Linked DNA regions of Homo sapiens: region 2 is linked to region 1. The links come from fine-mapping of genetic effects on gene expression. A gene starts in region 1. The other region holds a variant in brackets. All regions are shown on one strand. Distances are between the middles of the regions.

Region 1 (9,844 bases):
TGGCAACCCTTTCCAAGCCCAATCATCAGAATAGAATTAAACAGGAGATCTTTGTGTTTCACACTTGGATGATGTGGAAAATGCGGAGTGCGTCTGTTTACTGAGCATATATTATTTTGCAGTCACCCCTGCAGTGCAACTAGTCTTTCTGCCTCCTTCCAGTGGTTTTTCACTCTGCCACTGATAGCATGTGTACCTCTCTTAAGGCCCTTTTACATTTTACCTGGTTAGAAATTACATTTATCTCCTACCGGATTGTGAGCTTTTAAATACAAGTACTTACTATTCATTTCTGTACCCACTGTATGCTTAATACATATTTGCCAAATGAACACCTGAAAGAATGACAGCAGTGGTCTTCTAGTCAAAAAGGCTTGAAGTCCTTGCTTATCTTTTACAGCTTTTTTCTTTCCTTCATATCCAGTTAGTTGCATGGTCCTGTTGATTATTTCCACTTCAGTGTTTCTCACATTCTTTTTCATTACAACTGATACCACCTTTGGCTTCTTATGTCCTCATTCTGGAATTGCTGAAATATTCTCCTTATTTTATTTTATTTTTTTGAGATGGAGTCTCGCTCTGTCGCCCAGGCTGGAGTGCAGTGGCGCAATATTGGCTCACTGCAACCTCTACCTCCTGGATTCAAGTGATTCTCCTGCCGTAGCCTCCCAAGTAGCTGGAACTACAGGTGTGTGCCACCATACCTGGATAATTTTTTTTTTTTTTGAGACGGAGTCTCGCTCTGTCACCCAGGCTGGAGTGCAGTGGCACAATCTTGGCTCACTGCAAGCTCCGCCTCCCGGGTTCACGCCATTCTCCTGCCTCAGCCTCCCGAGTAACTAGGACTACAGGCGCCCGCCACCATGCCCGCTAATTTTTGTTTTTTTTTGTATTTTTTAGTAGAGATGGGGTTTCACCATGTTAGCCAGGATGAATTGCCTGGATAATTTTTTTTTTTTTTGTATTTTAAGTAGAGATGGGATTTTGCCATATTGGCCAGGCTGGTCTTGAACTCCCAACCTCAGACGATCTGTCTGCCTCAGTCTTCCAAAGTGCTGGGATTACAGGTGTGAACCACCATGCCTGGCCTTCTCCTAACTGATTTATGGGTCTAAATTGTCACTCTCTAATTCATTCTGCACAGCATCAGATTCGTTTTCCTAAAACACCATTTTTTTTTTTAATTGAGTTTTGCTATTGTCGCCCAGGCTGGAGTGCAGTGGCACGATCTCTGCTCACTGCAACCTCTGCCTCCCAGGTTCAAGCAATTCTCCTGCGTCAGCCTCCCGAGTAGCTGGGATTACAGGCGTGCGCCACCAGGCCCAGTTAATTTTTTTTCTTCTATTTTTAGTAGAGACAAGATTTTGCCATGTTGGGCGGGCTGGTCTTGAACTCCTGACCTCAGGTGATCTGCCCGCCACAGCCTCCCAAAGTGCTGGGATTACAGGCGTGAGCCGCTGCGCCCAGCCTAAAACATCATCTCGATCTTAACACTCACCTGCTTAAAAATGTTCTGTGGGCCAGGCGCGGTGGCTCACGCCTGTAATCCCAGCACTTTGGGAGGCCGAGGTGGGCGGATCACGAGGTCAGGAAATCAAGATCATCCTGACTAACACGGTGAAACCCTGTCACTACTAAAAATACAGAAAATTAGCCAGGCGTAGTGGCACCGCCTGTAGTCCTAGCTACTCTAGAGGCTGAGGCAGGAGAATTGCTTGAACCCGGGAGGCAGAGGTTACAGTGAGCAGAGATTGTGCCACTGCACTCCAGTCTGGGCGACAGAGTGAGACTCCGTCTCAAAAAAAAAAAAAAAAAAAAAAAAGTTTTGTGAATTCAAGCTCCTCAGCATAGCATTCAAGGCCTTCCATAATCCATTCCCAACTTACCTCACATGCGTTCTCTGCTCCAGGGTCCCTATTCCTGGGGACCTCATTAAGGAGAAGTACAAATGATAAATGCTGTGGTTCAGAGGTGGGCGAGGGAGTCAATATAGATTGGAAAGAGGCTGTAGGTCCAGGATGGCTTTGTCAAGGTCTGGATTCATTTTTCTAAATCTGACTTGGTGCACTCACAGCCTCTCCTTTCTCAGCCCATACCTGGGAAGGAATTTCACAATAGGTGGTACTTAAGCCAGACTGTGGAATAGGATTCAAACAGGTGAAAGGGAGGTGGGAGGTGTGTTAGGAATAGAGAGAAAAGAGCCTGTGATAGATAGATTTAGGTTGGACCATAGTGGGTCTTACGTGCCAGCTTGGGATAGAAGAGGTAGTTTTGATTTTATCTTATAACCCTCCAAGTTTTTCTAGCAGAGAAAACACAGGATTTGAGTGATACTTTAGGAAAACATGTCCATGTAGAGGGTAAGATTACAATGGGAGACTGGTGAGTGCTTAATTAGGAGGTCATTCAACTGTCCAGACCTGACTTGATAATGGCTTGATCTAGGGAGGTGGCAATCCATCTATAAAGAGTCTGAGACTTAGCCTTTAGAAAGAAGATATACTCTAGGCTAGGCGCAGTGGCTCACGCCTGTAATCCTAATACTTTGGGAGGCCCAGGTGGGCGGATCACCTCAGGTCAGGAGTTCGAGACCAGCCTGGCCAGCATGGCAAAACCCTGTCTCTACTAAAAGTACAAAAATTACCTGGGTGTGTTGGGGGTGCCTGTAATCCCAGCTACTTGGGAGGCTGGGCAGGAGGATCGCTTGAGCCTGGGAGGCAGAGGTTACAGTGAGCCAAGATCACGCCATTGCACTCCAGTTTGGATGACAAGAGCGAAACTCCGTCTCAAAAAGAAAGAAAGAAAGAAGATATATCCTTACCTTTCAGCAAGATTTCCTGGTGGTCCTACACCAAGGAGAAGAGAAGGACTGGTTGGACCTTAGCATGCTCTTTGAGTTTCTCCAACTTTCCCATGACCAGGTTTACACTTTTCCTTAGTAGTGAGACCCCAGAAAGCTATGATGCCACAGCCCCACCATCATGATGTCTGGAGGGTCCAGACTCTTTCCTTTGTGTGTGGGTCTGTTTCTTCAAATAAATCCATTTCCACAGCACCACCTTGAGCTGCAATGTTTAGTATAATATATGTACGGCATATGTTGCTGGAGTAGTTGCAGCTTGTCACTCTGCCCCAATTAACTGGCTATTTTTTTTTTTTTTTCTGAGACAGGGTCTTACTTTGTTGCCCAGGCTAGAGTGCATGGAGTGCAGTGGCACAATCTTACTCACTGCAGCCTCATTCAGTGAGTGCTCAAGTGATCCTCCCACCTCAGCCTTCCAAGTAGCTGGGACTACAGGTCCACACCACCACACCCGGCTAATTTTTTGTATTTTTTGTAGAGGTGAGGTTTCGCCATGTTGCCCAGGCTGATCTCGAATTCCTGGGCTCAAGTGATTCACCTGCCTTGGCCTCCCAACGTGCTGAGATTACAGGCGTGAGCCAACACACTTGGCCTTGACTTCGACTTTCTGAAGGGTCAGCTATCAGGGTCCACCAACCCCACCACTCTAACACCCCTGGTTGGTCTAAGACTTATAGACTCAACATTATGGAGTTAAGATCAGTTGTTTCTCCTGCCCTGGAATTACAAGCCACTCTGTTGCCATTGTGAACTATTAGGCAGAAGGGGGAGCAGGAGCTAGAAGGCCACTAGATCCTTTGGACTTCAACACAAGTCAAAGGCATACTGCCAGAGAACTGTCAGGAATGCCTTCTCTGTATACAGATAGAAGGACATATTTATCTCTAAAGCAAGGGAGAAAGAGACCTTCAGGTTCTAGTTTCCTTCATTCCTCAGCAATCTGCCTTTGTGGAAGATATTTCAGCCTCTTTCTCCTCTCCGCTGTTACAAAGTTCTCTTGCTCTTTTTTCTCGTCTTTGCTTTAGTCCACTTTTAATTAATTAATTAATTAATTAATTTTTGAGATGGAGTTTCGCTCTTGTTGCCCAGGCTGGAGTGCAATGGCAGCTCACTGCGACCTCCACCTCCCGGGTTCAAGCGATTCTCGTGCCTCAGCCTCCCAAGCAGCTAGGATTGCAGACATCCACCACCACACCCGGCTGATTTTTTTTGTATTTTCAGTAGAGACGGGGGTTTCACCATGGTGGCCAGGCTGGTCTCAAACTCCTGACCTCAGGTGATCCGCCCGCCTCTGTCTCCCAAAGTGCTGGGATTACAGGCATGAGCCACCATGTGCGGCCTTTTTTATTTTTATTTTTTTAAATTTTCCTTTATTTTTTATTGAGACAGGGTGTCACTGTGTCGCCCAGGCAGGAGTGCAGTGGCACAATCACGGCTCACTGAAGCCTTGACCTCTTGGACTCAGGTGATCCTTTCACCTCAGTTTCCTGAGTAGCTGGGACTACAGGCATGTGCCACCATGCTTGGCTAATTTTTTTTTTTTTTGAGATGGAGTCTCGCTCTGTCACCCAGGCTGGAGTGCAGTGGCACGATCTCAGCTCACTGCAACCTCCGCCTTCTGGTTCAAGCAATTCTCCTGCCTCAGCCTCCTGAGCAGCTGGGACTACAAGTGTGCGTCACCACACCCAGCTAATTTTTTAGTAGAGATGGGGATTCACCATATTGGCCAGGCTGGTCTCGAACTCCTGACCTCGTGATTCACCTGCCTCGGCCTCCCAAAGTGCTGGGAGGCATGAGCCTCCGAGCCTGTCCCAGGCTAATTGTTACATATTTTGTAGAGATGGGGGTCTTGATATGTAGCCCAGGGTGGTCTCGAACTCTTGGGCTCAAGCCATCCCCCTGCCTTGGTCTCTCAAAGTGCTAAGATTACTGGTGTGATCCACTGTGCCCAGCCTCAGTCCATTTTTCTTTCCCCATCTTTCCCTTGAGTTTGAAGTATGAGCTGAGTTCCTTGCTCCCATATCTCTGAAGGGAGTCCCCAGCACCAAGGTCTCCTGCCTCAGTGGGGTTACAGCGCTGTATTCTGACCACATCAGTCCACTGAATTGTCTACCTCGTCCTAGGCTGGGAGCCCTCTCAGGCCAGGGACAGGGCCTTATTTGTCTCTACGTGCCCAGTGCCCCGCATGGGAGAAACAAGGAGCCCAGCCCTGCTCCATCCATTTGTGCTCATGTTTCTTTGCATTACCCCAGCCCCCCCCGCCCAACTCCAGATAGTTGGAGGATGACAGACAGGAGACTCTTTGGGTGACTCTCAGATGCGTCATGGGCAGCAGAAGGTGAAGGTCTGACCGTGAAGGCAGCGTCTTCCTAGTGCTGGAGACTCTACAGCCCTCATCCTGTCTCCTTTCAGCTGTCCTCTGAGATGAAGGGGGCTGCTCCATCAGCCAATCCCAAAGCCTGAATTGGGGGTTGAGGAGAAATGAAGCGTCAGCTCACACACCTTCCTGGCCGGTTCTGGCTGTGGCCCAGCTTCTCTGTAGCGTCCCTCCTATCCCACCAGACCCCAGCCACAAATTCCTGGCTTGCTTCTTCCAAACTTCATTCAGCCCCAGGGATGGCTCTGCAGGATGTGTGCAAGTGGCAGTCCCCTGACACCCAGGGACCATCACCTCACCTGCCTCGGGCTGGCGGCTGGGCTGTGCCCCGGGGTTGTGACCCTCAAACCTTCCTGCAGATCCATGGCCCCAGACTGGCCCACGGCACCACCACTCTGGCCTTCCGCTTCCGTCATGGAGTCATTGCTGCAGCTGACACGCGTTCCTCCTGTGGCAGCTATGTGGCGTGTCCAGCCTCATGCAAGGTCATCCCTGTGCACCAGCACCTCCTGGGTACCACCTCTGGCACCTCTGCCGACTGTGCTACCTGGTATCGGGTATTACAGCGGGAGCTGCGGCTTCGGGAACTGAGGGAGGGTCAGCTGCCCAGTGTGGCCAGTGCTGCCAAGCTCTTGTCAGCCATGATGTCTCAATACCGGGGACTGGATCTCTGTGTGGCCACTGCCCTCTGCGGCTGGGACCGCTCTGGCCCTGAGCTCTTCTACGTCTATAGCGACGGCACCCGCCTGCAGGGGGACATCTTCTCTGTGGGCTCTGGATCTCCCTATGCCTACGGCGTGCTAGACCGTGGCTATCGCTACGACATGAGCACCCAGGAAGCCTACGCCCTGGCTCGCTGCGCCGTGGCCCACGCCACCCACCGTGATGCCTATTCAGGGGGCTCTGTAGACCTTTTCCACGTGCGGGAGAGTGGATGGGAGCATGTGTCACGCAGTGATGCCTGTGTGCTGTACGTGGAGTTACAGAAGCTCCTGGAGCCGGAGCCAGAGGAGGATGCCAGCCATGCCCATCCTGAGCCTGCCACTGCCCACAGAGCTGCAGAAGATAGAGAGCTCTCTGTGGGGCCAGGGGAGGTGACACCAGGAGACTCCAGGATGCCAGCAGGGACTGAGACGGTGTGAGAAGCAGGACTTGGTTGGGGATGGTGTAGGCCTGGGGAGTGGGTGGGAGGATGGGCAGCAGGGGGAGGGTCCCGCTGGCAGCAGCCTCACAGCGTCTGGCTCTAGCCTGTATGGGTTGCTGGCTTCATTTATTGCAAGTCTCCATCCTTTCATGACTCCCAGAGCTATTATGGCTCTGCCCAACAAGTTCCTATTGACTCCCAGTGGATTGGTCCAGCCTCCTTCTTGGCACCAAGTCCGTCTTTCATTCAACACTTGCAGTGTGCCTACTGCATGCCAGACGCATGCTAGGTGCTAGACCCTCTTTTCTTGCCATCTTCTCTGCTTTTTTCCATCATCTCATCCCCAGTTTCTCTTAGTTTCGGTCCTTTATGTGTCTCAGCTTCAGCGTCTTTGTCTTTTTCTCCTGATCACTTTGTCAGCATGGTAAGATGGGGCACCCGGGAAGGGAGCAGCCCCTCTCAGAACGAGGCGTAGTGATAGACACCCTTTGGATGGTGATGGGCTTGTCTTATCTGCTCTCCTTCTCTGACTTGACCATCATGACTAGAATGATTATCCCTTTACTGAATGCAGTTCTCATCGCAACCCTTTGAGGTAAAAATGAGTCTCTCTTTACAGAAGAGGAATCAGGTTCAAAGGGTTATGTGGCTTGCCAGGGTCACACAGTAAGTGGCAGGGATGACACTTAGATCCAGGCCTTCTCCTCCAGGGTCCATGCTCTTTCAGCACAGCTCCCCCTCCCAGGCCCTCTGCCCTGCCTTTCCTCTCTTCCCTGCAGGCTTCCGGAGAGGGATGTGGAGGGAGAAAGTAGCTAGGCCAGTCCCCTGCCTGGTGGCTCATGTGGCTTTATCTTCCAGGCCTGGAGCCATCCCCCACAGCCCACCCTTGCTCTCCAGCTTTCTGGGCCTGGCGGTGCCGCTGCCAGACTTCCCCTCCTCCTTTCTTCCCTTTGCCTTCTTTCCAGCCCCTCCTTCCTGATGCTCCCTCTGGAGAATGAAGACAAGAGAGAGGTGGCTGTGCCAGTGGGAACTGTCTGGCTAGCACATCCTCTCCTGCCCCTCCTGTCCCTGCTCCCACTCCCCTAGAAGCCCAGACTTGAAGATCCAGACTAACACCTCCAGGAGGGCCACTGCCCTGCTGTCCCCTGGCCAAATGAGAGAGAAAGCACTGTTAACCTACGAGATAGGGCCTGAAGGAAGGGTGCTGAAGTTGCTTTCCTCACATCCAATCCTAAAGCTTCCAGTCCCAAGAATAACAGCCGCCTGCCTTCCCTCTTGGACACCCCTCATCCCTGGCTCCAGCCTAGGCCCGAGCCTTAATCTTGCACCCCAGATTAAGCATTCCTCCAGGCAGGAGCTGGGCAGACAGACCTCCAGACTCTGGTGCAGAGCGGGTGACTGGGGTGGGGGAGGAAAGGTCAGGGGGCTCCAGAAGGGAAAACCCCAGAAAGGACACAGTGGGGAGGAATTGTGGTGGACACCACAGAAAGGTGTCCAGTTTGGGGGGACTGGCCTTCAAGCCAGGCTCAAGGAATCTGGCCAGTGGCCTCTGCGGCCACCCTTCTTTACCCCTTGCTCACTCCCCAGCCTCAGGGGAGGAGATGTGGGACTCTGGGACTGCTAACTGGGAGGCAGGGCTCCCAGTGGCCTAGTCCTGGAGGAAGCATGTGAGGAGGGGCAGCTTTTGCATGGCGTTCAGGTGTTTGACTCGGCATAAGAGGGTGCATATTCATGTCCACAGGTGTATGTAGTTCTGTGCCCAGGTGTAGGTGAGTGATACAGGATGGGATTCACACGAGTGTGGCAGGCGATGCGTGTGCAGTTCCTGTGTGCAGAGACAAGAAACAGACTGAAAGAGAAAGAGCGACACCTGAATAAGGAGATCAGCCTCTCAGCGGGAAGACTGCCAGGCCTTATCACTTCTTTTGGGGAGTGCTCCAGAGTAAAGAGGAGGTGGGGGACAGGCTCATGCCAGCAGTTCTCTACTTCCTCATCCTCCCAGCCCTATCCTGAGCCTCTCAGGAAGTGAGAAAAGACAGGCAGGGAGGGGTGGCCTGGGACCTGGGATTGCCACCTGAGCGCAGTCAAAGGTGGGCTGTGAACTGCGTGCAGCTGTCTCCCCCTGAGATGCTTGGCGCCTCACCCCCATTCCCAGACTCAAGCAGGAGAATTGAACTCAGACCAAGAGGGCAGAACCAGACCAGGAGGGCAGAACTCAGGGTGGGGGGACCCTCCTCTCTTTTCCTTCCATAGTCCCACCCATCTTCACTCCCTTTGACAGGTCCTGTCCTTCCAGAGGTTGAGGTAGTTGAGGCCAGAGATGAGCCCATGGGTCTGGCTGACAAGCCTGGTTCCCTCTGCCCTATTATTTTCCGCTATGTTTTTAATGAGTTTGGGGGAGGACCTTAGGAGAGTCTTAGGGAGGGCTGGGTAGACAAAGGCCAACATCCCATTCCAATGCACCCCTCACTGTCTAAGAGTAGCCCATGAGTCATTTCCCCCATTTCTCTACTAATTCCTGAAGGCTTGATACAGATATCACGGTGAGACCAAAGGGGCGGAGATCTTCCCCTTCCTGCCCCGAACCAGAAGACCTTGTCCTTCTGATGCCCTGCTTGGGGTGGTGCCTACCTCCTCACAGTCTCTGGAGAGTTCGGGGGGATAGCCCGCTCTTGCACAAGCCCTTGGACTGTCAGAGGTCCAGGCTTCCAGCCTTCAGCAGAGTAAATGACCTGAATTCCAGCACTAGAGGGAGGGGCCTTGTTCTCCTACCTCCTGCTTGTCCTTATCAAGCAGGTGGGGAAGGTATGAGGGAAGGTATGTTCACATTGAAGCAGCTTTCCCCAGCTGCCAGTACCCCATACGAAGGGGGAGTCACAAGGACCTATCCTACCTCGCCTACCTGTGTGTGCCTCTGGAGCCCTGGAGTTGAGAGGCCTGAGCTCTCATGCTGGTTCCTGGGTGGACCCCTTCTCTGGACTTTGGGAGATAATTGCAGTTCTGGCTCAGCTCCCACCTAGTTGACTGCTTCTGTCCGTCAACAGCCTGCCTCCCTGGTCCTCTCCCTCCTCCTTTGTGTTCTGCAAAGACTAAGACCATGGCCTAGGGGAGAGTTAAAGGTGGGAGCAGCGGGCCCAGATTCAATGTGACTGTCTCACTCTGGTCCGCCCTTTCCCCACTTGGCACTACGAGCCCCAGGAAAGGCTGGTTTGTCCCCGCTGCTGCCTGCCACCCCCATTATTTTCCTAGTCCAGAATCCCCCTTCCTCTCTTAGTCTTTTATCCCTCCGGCCCTCTTCTCAGCAGCTCTCACACTTCACCCTCTACTTCTCCTGCCCATCTTGCCCTCTGACCAATCCCTATATCTTTTTTTTTTTTTTTTTTGAGACAGAGTCTCGCTCTGTCACCCAGGCTGGAGCGCAGTGGCGCGATCTTGGCTCACTGCAACCTCCGCCTCCCAG
Region 2 (9,844 bases), 28 kb before region 1:
CTGCGAGCCTGTTTTTCTCTAATTCATATACTTTTTTCTGTGACTCTTAGAAATGAGAAGCTTTCCATTCTAAAAATGCAACATGATAACCAAAAGGCATTTCTTATCCCTTCTATTATTTGCCTTTGCATCCTCTTGGCTCCCCATCACCATCACCATGAACAGTTTTTGAGAATTACACTTGACTGGATTTTTTTCCTGATACTTTGCCAGCTGTGGAGCTTTTCGAATATTCCAACCAATAAACGACCATTTTGTCAAAAAGCCAAGAAAGAACTTCCCTTCTGAACACACCAACCAAACCACACATAAAGGCCAAAATATACACAGCTGTACACTTAAGAACGTGAGACAATAAAAAGCAAAACCACTTAGGCAAAACAGTCACTGAAGGCTTTGAACCACAGATTCAATAAATTGCCTACTCTCATTTGCCACATGGACTATATACTCCTTGGCAATTATTTAATTATTCATTATTCTGATCCTTTAGGAGCAGAAAAATATAGTAAATGCACATAGAAAGTGCCTAAGTATGCTAAGCATAGGATTTCTTCTAAGCTCTGCTTTGCACACAAAATATTTTGATCACATTTGGGAAGACAACGGAAAAAAATTCACATCCTAGGGGATACTTTGCACACATAAAACCAGATATATTTATCACTTTTGAAAATAAAATCTGATATGGCACATATACACACATATTGTACATATACACAAATAACCCCAAGTTATAACTTTACAAATTTGTTTCAAGAAACACACACACACACACACAAATGTTCTAATGAAAATGTGTGTGAAAGACACACTGTAATTAAGGTCTTTCCCCCTTCCCTAGGGAAATGAATGTCTCCATTATAATATCCCAATATTAACTTATTGGCCTTGGACAAGTGCCACATCCCAGCCACTTGGTTTTGGTTCTGGGGGGGTGGGTGTGTAAAAAGCACGCAAACGGCTTTATGAGGGAGCCTCAAATCTCTCTGCTTCCTTCGATGTTGCCTGTGGCAGAAATTTACATTATCCCTTCAGCCCGCTTAAAAAATTCTGTACTTCCCAAGCGGCTAAATTTTTAAAGTCCCTCAACCACAAAAATCTACCAGTTCTTAAAATGTGATTTAAAAAAAAGAAAAAAAAACTATAAATTTGGCCGGAAACGGTTGTACACGGCCATCCTGCTTCTCAACTTCTTGGTATATTTAAAACCTTGACCAGGAAAAAGAAAGAGGAAGAGAGACAGAAAAAGAAATGGGGGAAAGAGCAAATTCCCCTTAGCAACAGTTTCCTCACCCCAACACTGCTACAGATCTCTATTTTTAAAAAATTTGAAAACACACACAAGATTAAGGAGGAAAAAAAATGGAAAAAGGATACCCGAAGGTCGTATGGCTCTTTGTATTCGTGTGTGTGCAAAAAGGAGGACTCGCGGAGCCCGAGCCGGCAAGCCCCGCCCCTCCCCGGACGCCCTCCCGGATTGGCCGTCCGCGGCCGCGGGGCGCCCCGCCCGCAAGCACACGCGCCGCGCCCGAGGCGCCAACCCCGGAGTTGGGGGCGGGGGGGGCCCTGAGGGCCGCCGGACCCCCGACCCCCAACCTCGCCTGGACCTTGGCAGACCCCTTTCCCACCTCTCTCCCTTTCACTTTCTCACCGTCCTGTCACCCTTTCCCATCTTTTTTTCTCAGTGAAACAAGGCCCAGTCACCAGCATAACAATCCAGTGAGCGACCTCCGGACACTTTGTTAAATTGAGTGAACTAGTCAGTAACATTCTAGACTGCAATTAAACATCAGGGACTTGGTGCGTGGGCCCTACTCCGGTTTCCAGGTGAAATGTCTCTGGGTCACGTGTGTTGCTTAACACCCCCACGTTTAAATGAACATTCACGTATGGAACATCTTTCTGAAGTCTTACACTTCAGCCCGAGCTCCCAGTTTATCTACCTGGCTCAGACCACATTCTCAAAACTAAAGTGGCTCCTCTTTATTTCCAGGAAGACAGCTGGTATACCTGGATTTTAAGCCACCCATAATCTGGTCCCACCCACCTATTTGTTATTTATTTATTTATTTAGACAGAGTCTCGCTCTGTCACCCAGGCTGGAGTGCAGTGGTATGATCTTCGCTCACTGTAAACTCCGCCCCTCCGCCCCCACCCCCACCCCCACCCCCACCCCGCCCAAGCGATTCTCCTGCCTCAGCCTCCCAAGAAGCTGGGACTACAGGCGTGCGCCACTGCACCCAGCTAATTTTTTTTGTTTTTGGTAGAGACAGGGTTTCGCCATGTTGGCCAGGCTGGTCCTGAACTCCTGACTTGAGGTGATGTGCCCACCCTGCCTTTTTTTTTTTTTTTTCAGTGATGTGATCTCGGCTCACTGCAACCCCCACCTCCGAGGCTCAAGCGATTCTCCTGCCTCAGCCTCCCGAGTAGCTGGGATTACGGATATATGCCACCACGCCCGGCTATTTTTTTTTTTTAAGTAGTGACGGGGTTTCACCATGTTGGCCAGGCTGGTTTTGAGCTCTTGACCTCAAGTTATCCTCCCGCCTTGGCCTCCCAAAGTGCTGGGATTACAGGCGTGAGCCACCGCGCCTGGGCACATATTTGTTCTTAGTTCCCTCTACGCTCGTCTTATCAATCTTGTATTATTCCTTTACTCAAGTGGCTTTTTTTTTTTTTTTTGGCCTGAATTATGCGTCTCCCCTTCCCTGACTGGTCAATTTTTATCCATTCTCTTTCAGCACAGACTGCTTACTTCCTTCTCTCCGCTCCCATCAACATGAATTTCATGTGTACTCCAGTTAGCGGCACGTAACTCTACCTTGATTCACATATTTTAGTAATTTCACTCCAGTAAACTGTTTGAGGTCAGTGATCATATCTTAAAATTGTTTTTCCATCCAGGAACTGTTTGATTCTTACTGCAGTAGCTGGCATAATTGTAGATATTTAGTAAACACTGACCAAAAAAATCATTTATTTATTTATATTTATTTTTGAGCTGGAGTCTCGCTCTGTCGCCCAGGCTGGAGTGCAGTGGCCCGATCTCGGCTCACTGCAAGCTCCACCTCCCAGGTTCACGCCATTCTCCTGCCCCAGCCTCCCGAGTAGCTGGGACTACAGGCGCCCGCCACCAAGTCTGGCTAATTTTTTGTATTTTTAGTAGAGACGGGGTTTCACCGTGTTAGTCAGGATGGTCTGGATCTCTTGACCTCGTGATCCACCAGCCTCAGCCTCCCAAAGTGCTGGGATTACAGGCGTGAGCCACCATGCCGGGCCAAAAATCATTTATGATCAAATAAGTGAATTTCTTTTCTAGCTAAAACACAGATTCTGAAACTCACATCTCACAAGAATTTCCCTTCTATAGTAAGTAGCAATTTGTGAACACTTATTGTGCAGGAAGTAACTGTTCTGAACACTTTATGTGCATCAATTTAGGTATTATTATTATTATTTTTTTTTTTTATTTTTTATTTTTCGAGACAGAGTCTTTCTCTGTCGTCCAGGCAGGCGGATCACGAGGTCAGGAGTTCGAGACCAGACTGACCAACATGGTGAAACCCCGTCTCTGCTAAAAATACAAAAAGTTAGCTGGGCATCGTAATGCGCACCTGTAGTCCCAGCTACTTGGGAGGCTGAGGTAGGAGAATTGCTTGAACCCAGGAGGCAGAGGTTGCAGTGAGCCAAGATTGCGCCACTGCACTCCAGGCTGGAGGACAGAGCGAGACTCCATCTCAAAAAATAATAATAATAAAATAATAAGGCCGGGTGTGGTGGCTCACGCCTGTAATCCCAGCACTTTGGGAGGATGAGGCAGGCAAATCACCTGAGGTCAGGAGTTCAAGACCAGCCTGGCCAACATGGTGAAACCCCGTCTCTACTAAAAATACAAAAATTGGCTGGGCTTGGTGGCGCACGCCTGTAATCCCAGCTACTTGGGACGTTGAGGCAGGAGAATCCCTTTAACCTGGGAGGCAGAAGTTGCAGTGAGCTGAGATCGTGCCACTTAAAAATAAATTTTTTTTGGCCGGGCGCAGTGGCTCATGTCTGTAATTCCAGTACTTTGGGAGACCGAAGCGGCACGGCAGATCCCTTGAGCTCAGGAGTTGGAAACCAGCCTGGGCAACATAGTGAAACCCCTGTCTCTCCTAAAAATACACAAATTAGCTGGGTGTAGTGGTGCATGCCTGTAGTCCCAGCTACTCCGGAGGCTGAGGCACATTAATCACTTGAACCCGGAAGGCGGAGATTGCAGTGAGCCGAGATGGTGCCACTGCACTCCAGCCTGGGTGACAGAGCAAGACTTCGTCTCAAAAATAATAATAATCTAGGGACATGACAACTACATGCAAAGTATGATCTGGGTCAGAAGAAAAAATGCTATCCTGGACACTAACAGGATACTTGGGAAAATTAAATATGGCCTGGATATTAGATAATTTGATTGTAGCCAAGTTAGATTAGTGGC[G/A]TCACCATTTTACAAGAAACAGGTTCAGAGAGTACTTACTACAAATTTACATAGCTAATAGGCGACAGACCTGAACCCCCAAGCCAGCTGTCTTATCAAGCTGTTCAACATACACACACACACTCACACACACATTTTGACACTGGCCATCAGTCAGGCCTCGTCCATAAAATTGTTGGTTCTCAACGTCCAGGGCATTGTTGGTAGGATCTAGTTCTCAGCAGAAAGGCCTAATGCCTTCAGTGTTGTTTTCACCCTAGCAGCACCCTAGCTTAGGCAATAGATTTGCCTTTTACCTGAAAATGAGGTGCTAGTGTTTACTTTCTCAAGGGTTATAGACTTTCTGTGTTTCTTTTTTCTCTTTTTAGAGACAGGACCTCACTATGTTGCCTCGGCTGGTCTCAAACTCTTGGACTCAAGGGATCCTCTTGCCTCAGCCTCCCCAATAGCTGGTGCATGCTACTGTGCCCAACATGTGTTTCTTTTTATATGCTTTTCATTTAAACTTCTAAAAAATAACACAAGCCTAACTGGGCGTGGTGGCTCATGCCTGTAATCTGAGCACTTTGGAAGGCCAAGGCAGGTGGATCATTTGAGGTCAGGAGTTCGAGACCAGCTTGATCAACATGGTGAAACCCGTCTCTACTAAAATACAAAATTTAGCCGGGTGTAGTGGGGTGCACCTGTAATCCCAGCTACTTAGCCAGGTGTGGTGGTGTGCACCTGTAATCCCAGCTACTCTGTAGGGTGAGGCAGGAGAATCGCTTGAACCTGGGAGGCAGAGGTTGCAGTGAGCCGAGATTCCACCACTGCCCTCCAGCCTGGGTGACAAAGTGGGATTCTGTCTCAAAAAATAAATAAATAAATAAATAAAGCCATGAGATCACTAGGAAAATATTAAATATTAACTCTTGATGAGAATGTACTAGGACGTCTCATATTCTCAAATGCACAGGTGATATATTTTCTTTTTTTTTTTTTTTTGAGATGGAGTTTTGCTCTTGTTGCCCAGGCTGGAGTGCAGTGGCACAATCTCGGCTCACTGAAACCCCCGCCTCCTGGGTTCAAGCAATTCTCCTGCCTCAGCCTCCAGAGTAGCTGGGACTACAGGAGGCTGCCACCACACCCGGTTAACTTTTTGTATTTTTAGTAGAAACAGGTTTCACCATGTTGGCCAGGCTGGTCTTGAACTCCTGACCTCAGATCATCTACCTGCCTCGGCCTCCCAAAGTGCTGGGATTACAGGCATGAGCCACTGTGCCCAGCCACAGGTGATATATTTTCAAAAATGTTAGGATAAAGGGAAAACAGAAATGTTAATAATTATTAAAATCAACAGTTATTGAGAGTTTACTTGGTGCCAGGCACTCTGTATCTCATTTAATCAATTCTGTGAGATAAGTACTATTATACTCCCTCTTTTACTGAGGAGAAAACTGAGACTTAGAGGGGGATTGGTAAGTTACCTAGAGGTTGTTGAGCTAATTAACTCAATGGTGGTCACTAGTGGAATCATAGCTTGAACCCAGGTGTGCTCACTACAGAACCTGTGCTCTTGACTATTCATTAGTCTCTGTCTAAATTGAAACCCACTCTGCCTTGCTGTTACCCTCTTTTGCTCTCGTTCTGTCCATGAAAGACAAGCTGTCTTCACTTTGATGATCAATGGAATGTTCATAACTGCCATACAGTCTCCTGGGATATATTTTTAATTATGAGTCCATTACTACAAAGGTCAAAGTTAAGTTGGAAAAGCCATGTCTTTTTTTTTTTTTTGAGACAGAGTTTCACTCTTGTTGCCCAAGCTGGAGTACAATAGCACGATCTCGACTCACCGCAACCTCTGCCTCCCGGGTTCAAGCAATTCTCCTGCCTCAGCCTCCCAAGTAGCTGGGATTACAGGCATGCACCACCACACCCAGCTAATTTTGTATTTTTAGTAGAGACAGGGTTTCTCCATATTGGTCAGGCTGGTCTCGACCTCGACCAACCTCAGGTGATCCGCCCGCCTCGGCTTCCCAAAGTCCTGGGATTACAGGCCTGAGCCACCGCGCCTGGACTTTTTTTTTTTCTTTTTCTTTTTGAGACAGGATCACTTGCTTTGTCACCCAGGCTGGAGTGCAGTGGTGCAATCATGGCTCACTGCAGCCTCTACCTCCCGAGTAGCTCAGACTACAAGTGTGTGCCAATATGCCCAGCTAATTTTTAAAATATTTTGTAGAGATGGAGTCTAACTACGTTGCCCAGGCTGTTCTCGAACTCCTGGGCTCAAGTGATCCTCCCACCTTGGCCTCCCAAACAATTACAAGCATGAGCCACAGTGCCCGGCCTAAATTTCTATTTTCCCCATGGTCATAGGAGAATCTTTGAGTAGAAGGTTTGAGTAATGAACTTGTGTGCTGTTAGGTAATGAGAATAGGGAGAATATACCATTTTCACCTAAAAATTACAATTTTCACTCTAAAACATCTGAAATTTCAAATGTTAGACTTTACAGATGACTTGTCGATTGAGGAAAATCACTAATTTGGCTTTGAATCAAGCAGATCTTTTATTTTAGGCTGTTTCTGTTCAATGAGATCTGAAAGAGGCCTCCCCTACAGTGAAATGTAACTTCCCCTAGAGTGAGGCCGGGAAGCTGTTTCCGACAGTCATTCGTTAACACATGGGAGAGCATCTTAGAATAGGAGTGGAAGGAAATCCTACAGCTAGCTGAGAATATGTCCTAAGAGACACTGGAGAGGAAAGTATGAGAGAGCTGAGATTCAGAGTTGAGAAAGGGTACAGAAAGGTGGAAGGTAATGCAAAGGAAACAACAGAAAAGGAAGACGGCAGGCAGCAGAGAACAGCCCTCAAGGAAGAGAGAAGGGGTTTGTATTGTAGCAGGAGTGAAAGTAGATTCGATTTTAAAGAAAAAAGATCTGAATTTGATTGTTAGATGCAAAAATTTGATAAAAATTGTAGAAGCAACTGGAACATCTTAAGATCAGTTAAAAAAAAAGTGTCAAAAACCAAAACAAAACAAATTAAAATGCTATAACAGGCCAGGCACGGTGGCTTACTCACGTCTGTAATCCCAGCAGTTTGGGAGGCTGAAGTGGGCGAATCACCTGAGGTCAGGAGTTGGAGGCCAGCCTGGCCAATATGGTGAAACCCCGTCTCTACTAAAAATACAAAAATTAGCCGGGCTTCGTGGTGTGTGCCTGTAATCCCAGCTACTTGGGAGGCTGAGGCAAGAGAATCACTTGAACCTGGGAGGCAGAGGTTGCAGCAAGCCAAGATCGTGCCATTGCACTCCAGCCTGGGCGACAAGAGCCAAACTCTGTCTAAACAAACAAACAAACATGAAACTGTGAATGATATTTTATTTAGTCATTTTTGTTTACAATTGAAACTTTGGGAATTCAAAAGTAACATTCTTGCCTTTGAGCTTCTTTCAACCTACAAGAAAAGAAACAATCATCACAAAACTTTCAAATACACACACTCATCTTAAAACCTAATGATTTTGTGAAATTGTACCCCTTATGTTTTCTATTTGTTTGTTTGTTGTGAGATAGAGTCTCTTGCCCACCCTGGAGTGCAGTGGCATGGTCTTGGCTCTGCAACCTCTCCCTCCCAGGTTCAAGCAATTCTCCTGCCTCAGCCTCCTGAGTAGCTGGGATTACAGGCACCCGTCACCACGCCCAACTAATTTTTTTTTTTTTTTAGACTGAATCTTGCTCTGTCACCCAGGCTGGAGTGCAGTGGCACTATCTCGGCTTACTGCAACCTCTGTCTCCTGGGTTCAAGCGATTCTCCTGCCTCAGCCTCCTGAGTAGCTGGGATTACAGGCATGCACCACCAGTCCCGGCTAATTTTTGCATTTTTAGTAGAGACGGGGTCTCACCATGTTGGCCAGGCTGGTCTCGAACTCCTGGCCTCAGATGATCCACCCACCTCGGCCTCCCAAAGTGCTGGGATTATAGGTGCCTTTATGGTTTTTCTCCTTGGCAACCAGTTACTGTGAAAATCAAGTACTGTGAAGATACAGGGTACATCCACAAGTGTCCCAAGACCGAGAACAAGCTCATTTGCAATGCGTGGGACAGGATTCTGCAGCACTGCACCTAAGTGCTGTGCTCCTTTGCCATGTGGGTGTGTGTGAATTTTTCGTGGTGTTTCTACTGGAAGAGTCAGGACATTATTTGCAATCTGATTTATCTGTTTTCTTGTGATTAGGTTCAGGTTAAGCTTTTTTTTTTTTTTCTTTTTTGATACAGGGTCTTGCTCTGTCACCCAGGCTGGAGTGCAGTGATGTAATCACAGTTCACTGCAGCCTTGACATCCAAAGCTCATGCCATCCTCCTGCCTCAGCCTCCTGAGTAGCTTGGGACTACAAGTGCATGCCACCATGCCCTGCTAATTTTAAAAAGTTATTACTTGGTAGAGACAAGATCCCCCTATGTTGCCCCGGCTGGTCTCAAACTCCTGGGCTCAAGGGATCCTCCTGCCTTGGCCTCCCCAAATGCTGGAATTATAGGCATGAGCCACCACATCAGGGCCAAGGTTAAACATTTTTAGCGAGAATATTACTTAGGTAATTTTATATACTTCTTATTGTATCACATCAAGAGGCATATAATGTCAGTTTGTTCTATTATTGGTGACTGCAAGTTTATTCATGTCTGCTAGACGTCTCTGTTGTAGAAGTATATTTGCCATTTGTAATTAATTAGTAAACTAATAATAAATAGAGTGATTGTTATGGGCTGAAATGTGTTCCCCTAAAACTTATATACTGAAGCCCTAACCTCCAGTACCTCAGGATTCGACTGTATTTGGAGACTGAGTCTTTAAAGAAGTGATTAAGTTAAATGAGGCACTTAGGGTAGAGCCAGTCTGACTGGTGTCCTTATAAGAAGAGGGAATTTGGACACAAAGAGATACCTGTGGTGCACAGAGGAAAGACCATGTGAGGATACAGTGAGAAGGCAGCTCTCTGCAAGCCAAGGGGACTGAGGCTTCAGAAGAAATCAACACTGCTGATACTTTGATCTTGGACCTACAGCCTCCAGAACTGGGAGAAAGTAATTTCTGTTGTTTAAGCCACTCAGACTATGGTGTTTTGTTATAGCAGCCTTAGCAAACTAATACAGTGATTATCTTAGATAATGTGAATATCCTGTTCTTCCACAACCTTGCACCTTCCTATTTTTGCATTGGGGTTTGCCAAATGGTGATTTTTCAAATTCTGTTATTTCTTCTACATATAATAGCTGGCATCTATCTACTCATTTTTCTCCTCTTTGCCTTCTTCATTATCTTCTTTACATTTATGTTATTTCTTTTTTTTTGAGATGGAGTGTCGCTCTGTCGCCCAGGCTAGAG

Direction of the effects. Positions count from the first base shown, and alleles are read on the strand shown. Sizes are in standard deviations (SD) of each study's normalised expression.
In carriers of allele A in region 2, the expression in testis of the gene that starts at base 5,466 in region 1 tends to be higher than with G alone (moderate effect, 0.41 SD a copy in GTEx).

The links. PIP is the estimated chance that this variant, and not a neighbour inherited with it, causes the effect.
Region 2: its variant is fine-mapped to the expression of PSMB11 in testis (GTEx, PIP above 0.99).

The regions. Positions count from the first base shown.
Region 1 is chr14:23,036,747-23,046,590 of GRCh38, forward strand. PSMB11 (proteasome subunit beta 11) reads left to right here and starts at 5,466. Exons shown (of 1, transcript NM_001099780.2): 1 at 5,466-7,314. The coding sequence starts at 5,480. The coding sequence ends at 6,382.
Region 2 is chr14:23,008,721-23,018,564 of GRCh38, forward strand. C14orf93 (chromosome 14 open reading frame 93) reads right to left here and starts at 1,423. Exons shown (of 7, transcript NM_021944.4): 1 at 1,381-1,423. LOC124903286 (a long non-coding RNA gene) reads left to right here. Exons shown (of 2, transcript XR_007064075.1): 2 at 1-264. RefSeq lists a silencer at 1,412-1,761. The variant G/A (reference allele first, on the strand shown) is at 4,475.